3 linked regions of the Homo sapiens genome follow. The protein of the gene in region 2 purifies or fractionates together with the protein of the main gene of each other region. This does not show direct contact. Each region holds a gene or a part of one and is shown on either strand. Other genes may lie near its edges.

Region 1 (3,654 bases), on a different chromosome or scaffold from region 2:
GGGGGCTAGATGATGAGAAACAGCAATGCCGGAGGGGCCCGGCACAGGCCAGTGGGCCAAGCAGACAGGGACGGAAAGAACATCCTGCTTCTGACTTCCAAAATTCTAAAAATTATAAAAGATTTCCAGTTGCTTATGAAAATCCCAGAAGGACAGAGAACATGTACAGTTTTCAAATACAGCAACCATCCTGGGCCAGCTGTGTGCCTGTGGGGTCACAGGCATTGGGTCCCCAGTGTAGCCTCCCCGAGCCCAGGGCCAGCAGTGCTGAATGAGTACCTCATGGTTTTCATGGCCAAGAAGATCCGAAAGGACTTTGAGCACGAGGCCTGCCACCTTGGCACACATGTTCTTCCCTATGGGAAACAAATCAAAGCTAAACATGACATGTCTAAACCCAGAAGCACAATTTTAGGTCAGGTAGACTTGGAGACAAATCTTGGCTCCTCTGCTCATGAGCTGTATGACCTCGGGTGAGCTGTATGACCTCGGGTGAGTCATGTAACCAATCTGGGCCTCAGTTTCCTCTTCTTTACTACAGGGATTACTATTCATACCTACCTCAAAAGGTGATGCAAAATTAAGTAGACTAATGTATGTAAAGGACTCAGTGTAGCATAGAACCTCGGTGCTCAGTAAACCATCCCAAGTGGTGGCTATTACTCCGGTCAGAGCACAGAGCGAGTCATTACAGTGAAAGCACAATACATTATAGAGCAACGTTCTCCCTCCCACGCACGGACACCACCATCAGGAAGACCATATAGGCATTTTAGTAGTTATAAACATCATCATAAAAATCACTGCAAATATGGTGATGATGATGAAGAAAAGCTAATTCTAATCTGATAAACATATTAGAAGTTAGGACTTTTGGCTGGGTGCGGTGCTTTACGCCTGTAATCCCAGCACTTTGGGAGGGCGAAGTGGGTGGATCACTTGAAGTTAGGAGTTCAAGATCAGCCTTGCCAACATGGTAAAACCCCCTCCCTACTAAAAATACAAAAATTCGCCAGGTGTGGTGGTGGGCACCTGTAATCCCAGCTACTCGGGAGGCTGAGGCAGGAGAATCGCTTGAACCCGGGAGGCAGAGGTTGCACCACTGAGCCAAGATCATGCCACTGCCTCTAGCCTGGGCAATGGAGCGTGACTTCATCTCAAAAAAAAAAAAAAAAGGCTAGGACTTTTTGCATGCTATTTTTTTAAATGACTGAAATAACAGTCATTTACTCAGTCAACAACACACAGTTACATGGTTCAGTCTACAAAGTATATAGAGGGGAAGATGCTCCAACAAGTCCTCCTGAGCCAGCTGTTTACCCAGGGAGCCTTTCTCTCCTAACACTGGATGCTCAGGCTGGGGAAAGCCACAGCCTGGAGGTGGCACCTCTTCTAAAGAAGCTTCTTTCATCCCAGGTAACAATTTAAATGAGATAGTACCTGTACCTGGAAAAGCTCAAATCACTACCTTCAGCGATCAAGTATATAAATGACTGATCAAGTATATAAATGACTTGTGCCCACAGGAGAACCTCCACCTCCAGGGCTGGGGCAGGGAAAAGAGTGTGATTCAGGGCAGGAAGTGTGGTTTAGTGTCACTGCTACTGCGGCCAGCTTAATCCTATAGTATCTTGGGAACACACTTCTTTGTCTTCAGAAAAGGGGATCATATTCTTAATTTCCTACCTCTGAATAATGCAATAAAGAAAAAGGTAAATGAACTTAGTCTCCTCTTAATGCAGGCACTACATATATACAAGACATTTTTTCCAGGGCAAGAATGGATTTTGCCTTCAGGGATTCAACAGCTTGATACCTAGTTGGAAATGCTTTCTACTCCTTTTTCTGTTTTTAGTTTTCTATGAGACTAAAAGCAAACCATATCAGGCTCACTAGAAACCCAGCTTCAAGAGTCAAGATCTCTTCCCCTTCTTGCACTAGAATGAGGGTCGGGGCTGAGACCTGTGCTGCGGAGGCAGAGGTTCATGAGCAAAGCCACCGAGTACTCCAGCGTGTAGTCAGACAGGCAGTCAGGGTCCTTCAGAACATCAACCAGCCAGAAGATGAGGCCGTCTTGAATCATCGCTGTCTGCAGCGGGCGCCTGGGAAGAAAGAGCCTACGGTAAATACAAACTGCCAAGAAACTTTTCATATAAGAGGAAACAGTAGGCTGGAAGCAGTGGCTCATGCCTGTAATCCCAGCACTTTGGGAGGCCAAGGCGGACGGATCACCTGAGGTCAGGAGTTGGAGACAAGCCTGGCCAACATGGTGAAACCCCGTCTCTACTAAAAATACAAAAATTAGCCAGGCGTGGTGACGGCGCCTGTAATCCCAGCTACTTGGGAGGCTGAGGCACGAGAATTGCTTGAACCCGGGAGGCAGAGGTTGCAGTGAGCCGAGATCGTACCACTGCACTCCAGCCTGGGCGATGGAGCAAGACTCTGTCTCAAAAAAAAAAAAAAGAAGAAACAGTAATGTGAATGCATATCAGAAAAGACAAACTTACAGAAGACATAGACTCTGAGGAATATTTTTGTTAAACCCATACAATTGAAATAACAAAAATTCTTTACATTTCAGGGATATTTATTAAGGGTTTAAATAAAGATAAGGTGGTAAGGAGGCCTCCTACTTTGAAAGTTTCCTTTTCAATATTTAAAATTAGCAGAGCATTGCTTCAAATATCTAATAAATATTTATTTGTAGCTTTTGGTTTACTTAACCCAGGAAACAGGACCATAGAAATACTTCTTTGACAAATAGGTTTTTTGTTTTTTTTTCCTGAGACGGAGTTTTGCTCTTATTGCCCAGGCTGGAGTGCAATGGCACGATCTCGGCTCACCGCAACCTCCGCCTCCTGGGTTCAAGTGATTCTCTTGCCTCAGCCTCCCAAGTAGCTGGGATTACAGGCATGCGCCACCACACCCAGCTAATTTTGTATTTTTAGTAGAGCTAGGGTTTCTTCATGTTGGCCAGGCTGGTCTCGAACTCCCAACCTCAGCTGATCTGCCTGCCTCAACCTTCCAAAGTGCTGGGATTACAGGCGTGAGCCACCGTGCCCAGCTGACAAATAGATTTTTACCTAAACGCTCTATAATCCAGCTCTAGGCACTCTGAGCTGTATAAAAATAAAGAAAACAAGGAGGAGCAAAAGCCTAGCTTAACATCACTTTGATTCACATTTCTATAGAGTAAGGGTAGTTTAATGACCTGGTTAATGCAAATTATAAGGAATGATTTTCCACCCAAAGTCCAGGTGTAGAATCTTACAAAATCCAATACCCCATCAAAATGTGTGATGGTGAATGTCATCAGGTTAGCTTTAAGAATTGCTGAGACTAAGTGTGGTATCATTATGAGATGCCATCTGGATTAGTAGAAAACTGACATGCCACAGAGAAGCCAGCTCTGCACATCTCCGGATGCGCAGGTTATGGTGAAACCACCACTCAGGACAGAACAGCAGAACCAGTTATCCGTTCATCCTGTTCTTAAACACTACACTGACCCAATCAGGGTGGCTTATTAGAATACAGTGAAGACTGCGCTCTCTTGGTAACTAGCTACCTTCTTCATTTATTGCAGAGACTCTGGAAAACTGCAAAAAGGTTAAGCACATTTACAGAACAAAAAAGCTTAAATTAACACTTAGA
Region 2 (3,477 bases):
TCTCTTGCCCTCTAAGTTGAGTCTCTATCTGTGCAAAGAGTTTAAATTACATGATCTTTATGGTCCTTTCCAGCTTGAAAAGGCTGTGGTCCGTGTTTATGTTTCAGAGCTCTGACTGCCTTATTCTCCTGTTACATAATTTCTAAGAGAAGGCATATGTTACTTAGCATAGAGGTTTCATATCCACTGTGAAATATCTCTGGGAGATTCCAAAAATCTATTTAAATCTAAGCTGCTAGTATTTCACTCATTAAGCTATTATTGCTCACCTACTGAAGACTAAGCAATACTCCCAAATACAAGATACACACCATAGAAAATAAATTCACCAATATCCAGATTTTGTCAAAACTCTTATTTCTTTTCTCTGAGGTCTCAGACTCATCAAACATCCAAGGATAATTTTAGGATTCACTAGGCATTATCTGAGTATATCTCCCTGTCATAAAGGTTCATAGTTTTGTTTTTAATTGAAATATCTTCAAATGCTTTTCCTTCTTAAATAAATGCTTACATAGGTAACATAAGTGAATCTTACTGAGTCAGTGATAAAAATTCCCTGAAGTAAACATAAACTCCATAATGCAGTTATTTTTAAAACTTTATTTTAAAAATATGAGCATCTATTTTAAAAGTTTTGATAATTATTGCCATTATTTTCTTGTGATTGGTACAATTTAAAAATAAGTCTATGTTTTCACATTGATTTTAAAAAATATAGCATGTTTGAATTACAAATGATTAAGCAAACTCTATTACTTCATAGCTGACCATCTTCCAGAAAATTCCCACTTAATTGAATACTTAGAAAAAAATGGCCAGTGGCCGATTGAAAGGTATATTAAAATTAAGGGCAGTTTTAATTCTGAAGACAAATATCTTCATGGAAATCTATTTGTAAGCTTCTGAGATTGCTGCTGAAAGTCTACAGTCTGTGAATATACCAATTCCCCTTTACAACTGATGCAGATCATTATGAAATACTGGAAGGCATACCCTACAATTTAGGAATTGGTGTGGCTGCCACTGCTATGCTCTCAATTGCACACTCATCAGTTCCTCTGCGGATCCGGAAGTAGCCATTCTCACCCCAGCCGGTGCCCCAGCTGTTTTTAACAATCCAGTAATCCATCCCAGAGGCTGAGTCAGTGCCATAGCCCACAAGCAGAACAGCATGATTAGTCAGCTCAAAGGGGTTGAAAGGGTCTCTTAGACCAGTGTGGTGGTAGATCCCCTTTTTGTAGTGGAGGAAGTCATCATATACTTCAAAAGCAACTGCCATGGGCCCATGATGGACCAACTCAAGCTTCATCAGGGCTTCATTGCAGCCTCCATAGAAACCTCCTACATAGTGGTACTCAGAGGAGTAATAACGAAAGCAGTCTTCCTTCATTTTGCATGGAGAATCAGTGCCTGTGTAGGGGAAGCAAGCTTCTTCCACCAGCCCAAAATCTTGGGCGTACTTTCCTGCAATAAGGTATGGGAAGCCGCCTTCACAGCCTGAAGATGAATAACACACATGGTTACCCCTTAGTAGAAAAAGGATTATCCCATTTTCTATTTTTTCTTCTTTGCTCCATTATTCTTTGCATGTTACCCCTGAAAGTTGTTCTTAGCTTAAGCATCACTTCATTCATCCATCCATTTTCCAACTAGCTAACTATCCTTTCATCCTCCTTCTACTTAACAGATATCTACTTAGCACCTAATATGGATGTAGCTATGGCAAAGTGGTTAAGTGGGGAGGCTCTGAAGCCTATATAGGTTTAAAGCCAAAGCCGTGTGAAGAGTTTAACTTCTCTGTATCTCTGCTTACTTACCTGTAAAATCTAGATGGTAGTAGTACTTTCCTCATAGGGTTAAATTAGTTACTTCATGTAAAAATAGCAAAAGTTAGGTATTATGGTCATTGCTAAGCAGCCAGACCCCACAACTTGGCTCTTTCTCAAGCAAGTCTTTTCCCTGACAACCTCTTGCCGAAATGTCTTTCCTACCTTCCTCATGCAGTCCTGGCCCTATTATATATATTATAACTCTGTACTTTTTCTTCACTGTTCTTCACTCTGTTGTTATAATTATTTAATCTCTATCTCTTACTTAACTGTAAGCTTCATGAGGATAAAGATTGTCTTGATATATTATAGCCCCTATAGCCTACAAGTCACAACTAGTAGTACATATTTTAGAAAGAATGAAAGGCTCACTGGCAAATAATCACTCATCAGCAGTTTCACTAGTGAGCTGGGAAATTCCTAGTGGCCAAATCTGGGCTTGAAAGCATAAACTTTAAAATGGTAACGTTTCTCCCTCAATCAATTATAGCTGTGTTTTCGACATACATCACATACAGCCTGATCTGAAAGCCTAAGTACAGATTTTTTTTTTTTCATAACAGGGCCTCACTCCGTTTGCCCAGGCTGGAGTGCAGTGGCATGATATCGGCTCACTGCAGCCTTGACCTCCTGGGCTCAGGTGATTCTTACACCTCCGCCTCCTGAATAGCTGGGACTACAAGCACACACCACCACGCCCAGCTAATTTTTTGTATTTTTAATAGAGAAGGGGTTTCGCCGTGTTGCCCAGGCTGGTCTCAAACTCTAGGACTCAAGAGATTCACCCATCTCAGCCTCCCAAAGTGATAGGGTTATAGGCATAAGCCACTGTGCCCAGCCCTAAGTACAGAATTTTAAAATTCTCCCAGAGAGAAACCAGTGTTAGTATAGTTTTAATAAAAGTTGGGTTTTGGAGACGATGATTAGAAGTGAAACTCCAATGCTAAAAGCTGTGAGACCTTCAAATTATTAGAAAAATTTCTTAGTTCCTGTTCCCCGCCCATAAATAGGGATTATACTTACTACTTCTCAGAGTTTTGAGCATTGTTAGGCAATATATGTAACAAGCAGAGCTCACTCAATATATAGTAACTATTGACATTTTGCTGGATGGTACAGTAAATTCCATGAGCAATCATCCATTAATAAGTGATAGGGCCAGACTTGCACTCAGATTTTCTGACTATAGACACTGCGCTCTCTCTACTGCATCATCCTTTTGCCTTTGCCAACAACAGCCAGCTGCACACAGGTAAATAGCTCATAAATGGTGTCTGAAATGCAACACTTACCTTGAGCATACTGGCTACAAGACACAACCTCCTGAGGGCTTAGGATTGGGGTCTGAGAATTGTTGGTTAGTATACGGATTCTCGCTTCTAGCATACCCATAGAAGCAAATGAGTAGCAGCTGCCACAGGATGCTGGCGATGAAAAAAAGACACATAATCCAAGAGACATCTGAAGCCTCACAGAGAATCATGCAAAAACCTTAGTGAATCACATACATTAATGTTTATACTGAATGTTGTTGTTTATAAGAATCAGCACAATAAGAAGACTCAACTAACAAGCATTGTTGAGCTTATTAAGGCAATCATTAAGATTTCATCCTTTTTCATCAAAAGGCAAACATTAGTACATG
Region 3 (3,654 bases), on a different chromosome or scaffold from region 2:
CCAGGGAGGTGGGGGAGAGTCAGGGCCCTAAAGAGAACAGGTATCTATTTCTAAAAAAGCACTGAAAGGCTGGGCACGGTGGCTCATGCCTGTAATCCCCGCACTTTGGGAGGCTGAAGTGGGCGAATCATGAGGTCAGGAGTTCAAGACCAGCCTGGCCAACATGGTAAAACCCTATCTCTACTAAAAATACAAAAAATTAGCCAGGCATGGTGGCACGTGCCTATAGTCCCAGCTACTTGGGAGGCTGAGGCAGGAGAATTGCTTGAACCCGGGAAGCAGAGGTTTCAGTGAGCCGAGATCGTGCCACCCACTCTAGCCTGGGTGATAGAGCGAGACTCTGTCTCAAAAAAAAAAAAAAAAAGCACTGAGAAAGAAAAGTTAATATTTTCTCACATATTTATGCTGGAATTAGAGACTATCTGTCATCACTTGTCACATATCTCACATTTGCTACGAGCATCCTAATAACAAAGATGGAAGAGCTTTCTTCCTACTGAAGGAAAGATGAATCTATGATAGAGAACTTGTTACTTAAATCTTTCAAGAATTCTTTTTTAAAATTTGTAAGATTTTAGTTTTTTTGCAAACATATTCTGCTTATGTAAAGACTTCTTTGCAAAAGGGAAAATAATTCCCTAACATGTGTGTTTGGTATAAAAAACATAACACAAGGTCTGGGCTAGTCATACTATGAAATGCTATCTGCATGTTCTGAGGATGGTTAAGAAACCCAAAGAACAGGTGGAATGACAATGTACATGAATATTCTCTTTTACTTGATTTTGCCAACTAGATCTGTACTCACAAAGAAAGCGATAGACTCTGCTTTTCAATTTAAAAAATATCTCAACACTTACCTTTTAAGAAATCAAATCATGTAACTTCAGAACTTGTAAGGGCTGTCAGAGATTATGATGCCTAAGACTTCTACTTACAAGTGAGGAAACTAAGGGTTAGAGGCATTACTTACGTGGTGACAAAAATGGTTACCACATTAAATAACATTAAATAGAAAAATATTCCACAATATTACATTTTAATTAATTATTCTGACTAGTCAAGAAAAAAGTCTCAGTCCAGTTCTAGTATGCTTTTAAAAGTTCTTTAAAGCCAGGCATGGTGGCTCATGCCTGTAATCCCAGCACTTTGGGAGGCCAGGGCAAGTGGATCACTTGATCTTAGGAGTTTGAGACCAGCCTGGGCAACATAGTGAGATCCCACCTCTACAGAAAAGTTAAAAATTAGCTAGGTGTGGTGGCATGTGCCTGTAGTCCCAGCTACTGGGGGAGGGGGCGCTGAGGCAGGAGGATCACTTGAGCCAAGGAGGTTGAGGCTGCAGGGAGCCCTGCACTCTAGCCTGGGTGACAGAGTGAGATCCTGTCTCAAAAACCAAACAAAATTAAAAAAATACAAAAAACAATCCCCCCAAAAAGCCTCTTTAAGATTTGCTAATCTTCCCTTTTAACAAAGACAAAGCAGACTTTTAAAGAAAAACACTAAATGATGGCGTAACAGGTGGCATAAAGATAGGATGAAAATCCTTACACTGGTACGCAAATGCCTGAAAGTTGGGAAACAGTGCATTGGTTTACATAAAAACTTGAATTGGCCAAACTATCTAATATCCCATTAAATCTTTTAAAAGACTTGCCCTCTAACTTAGCAATTTTAAGAAAGGATACTACACACTATAATGCATTGACCTGTCTTAATTGTACTATTTTGGTATCTTATCAAATTATTTTAAATATTATCACTTAAATTAGCAATAATAGCATTTTAAAATCCTGCTAATAAATAATATGCTGAAATTATTCCTCTTACTACATAGATAATATTCATCAAACCACAAAATGTTGTATATTAATACAAATAAGCTAAAGAAAAATCATACCATCTGTCTTTGAATGACTTGAAATATGGAAATCACATCCTTTTCCAACTTCTATTGCAGTTTCTCTTACTTCAGAGTTATTTCCTGCCAAAAAGAAAGCTTTTTAAAATTAAACTGAACCACTCTTAAATAAAATGTCTAATCACACATAATTTAAGAAGGTAGCAGTACATAATATTTTAGAACAAACAAAATACAACATGCTGGGGATATAGGAACACTAAAACAAAGGACAAGAACAGATAAAAATCTGAGACTAGAAAAAGACTTACTATATCATTGATAAGCTCCAACTTATGCACCAAATATAGATGAGAGATAATGTAGTCTACTATAGCATTCAATTCACACTAAGAGAATAAGTGGGTGAATGACATTAGAACTTAGAAAAGGATCTGCTCTCTTATGACACTGGGTATTTCCAGAGGCCCGCTGCTTTTCACTAGCCACAATCAAACTCAAGTGGCACTGGCTCCCCCAAAACATTTGCTTCCACTTCAGGAACCTGTAGTCAACAGATGGCAAAAAGGAAACTGGGAAAAACCTCTCAAGAATGACTGTTAGAGGCTTACACATACTTTGCCAATTTCCACATACCATGCCTTCTATCAAGCAACTGAGATACCAAGAATAAAGAGAATGTGGGATGATGAATTTACATAGAAGACTTTAACAAAGTCTACTTGTGAATCAAGATGACTAAAGGATATCTAAACTTACTATATAACGTATGTTTTAATCTCAAATCCTTTTTGGAAATGGCAGAGAATAAATAAATGCTATCTTACATAAGAGAAAAGAACAATGGTCTTAAATCCCAGATGATTACCTTGAACTGTTGACTACAGCATCTCGAAAGTTTTTTCTTTTTTTTTTTTTAAACAGAGTCTTGCTCTGTTGCCTAGGCTGAAGTGCAGTGGCATAATCATGGCACACTGCAGCCTTGAACTCCTGAGCTCATGCAATCCTCCCACCCCAGCCTCCCAAGGTGCTGGGACTATAGGCTGCTCTGCCCGGCTAATTTTTTTGTAGAGCTAGGGTTTTGCTATGTTGCCTAGGCTTGTCTCAACCTCCTGGGCTCAAGCAATCCTCCTGCCTCAGCCTCTGAAAGTACTGGCATTACAAGCATGAGCCACTGCCTGGCCTGTATTTTAAGGCTCTCATCCTGTGGTCCTGTTTGTTGTTCCACTGCAACAGGCCAAAGACAGAGGAACAGTGAAAAATCCACGTCTACAGAGAATGAGAGACAACAGACACTAGAGCTATGACTTAGCAGAAGCCCAGGAGCCTTTGGCCTCTGAGTAGGCTATGTCATGCGCCTTCAAGGACAGGGATCCTTGGAGTTACGCCTATAGTGTGATAACTGGTCCTTATCAGGACTGTTTTAGGAAGGCTTTCTGTGCCCTTTGAAAGAACATTTATTTAGAGTTTGGGATGTTGTCTTCACCTGAATAAGGAATGGAGGTAAAAGGAGCTTTATCCTCTTTTCTCCACTTTTCACTCATCTATCAACACACATCCTGGTTTATAGTAGCTTTCAGTTCTGTTGCTGACATGGTCCACAGATGGGTTCACCTTGTGATAATTATTCAAACAGTCCTCCATGCCCATATAAATACTGCTGATAAAGCACTAGCATGAGGTTTGTAAAGTAATTTAAGAGACTCTCAGGGTTACCATCTTTAATTTTAGTCTTGGGCATTTAGTTTTCAGGTTAATCCTGGCATAAAACTGTTGGAACAAGTACTGAGATACAA

What was found.
Region 1: the proteins of CTSC (region 2) and ARMC9 fractionate together in Homo sapiens (co-fractionation; one large-scale study listed by BioGRID). This does not show direct contact.
Region 3: the proteins of CTSC (region 2) and POC5 purify together in Homo sapiens (co-immunoprecipitation; one large-scale study listed by IntAct). This does not show direct contact.

Annotation. Positions count from the first base shown.
Region 1 is NC_000002.12:231,275,084-231,278,737, reverse strand, and holds part of ARMC9 (lisH domain-containing protein ARMC9), read right to left. Parts: intron 2,103-3,654; coding exon 1,963-2,102; intron 357-1,962; coding exon 280-356; intron 1-279. UniProt on the Homo sapiens protein: Involved in ciliogenesis. It is required for appropriate acetylation and polyglutamylation of ciliary microtubules, and regulation of cilium length. Acts as a positive regulator of hedgehog (Hh)signaling.
Region 2 is NC_000011.10:88,293,009-88,296,485, forward strand, and holds the end of CTSC (dipeptidyl peptidase 1 isoform a preproprotein), read right to left. Parts: intron 3,257-3,477; coding exon 3,125-3,256; intron 1,501-3,124; coding exon 998-1,500; 3' UTR 584-997; downstream 1-583. UniProt on the Homo sapiens protein: Thiol protease. Has dipeptidylpeptidase activity. Active against a broad range of dipeptide substrates composed of both polar and hydrophobic amino acids. Proline cannot occupy the P1 position and arginine cannot occupy the P2 position of the substrate.
Region 3 is NC_000005.10:75,703,807-75,707,460, forward strand, and holds part of POC5 (centrosomal protein POC5), read right to left. Parts: intron 1,982-3,654; coding exon 1,898-1,981; intron 1-1,897. UniProt on the Homo sapiens protein: Essential for the assembly of the distal half of centrioles, required for centriole elongation. Acts as a negative regulator of centriole elongation.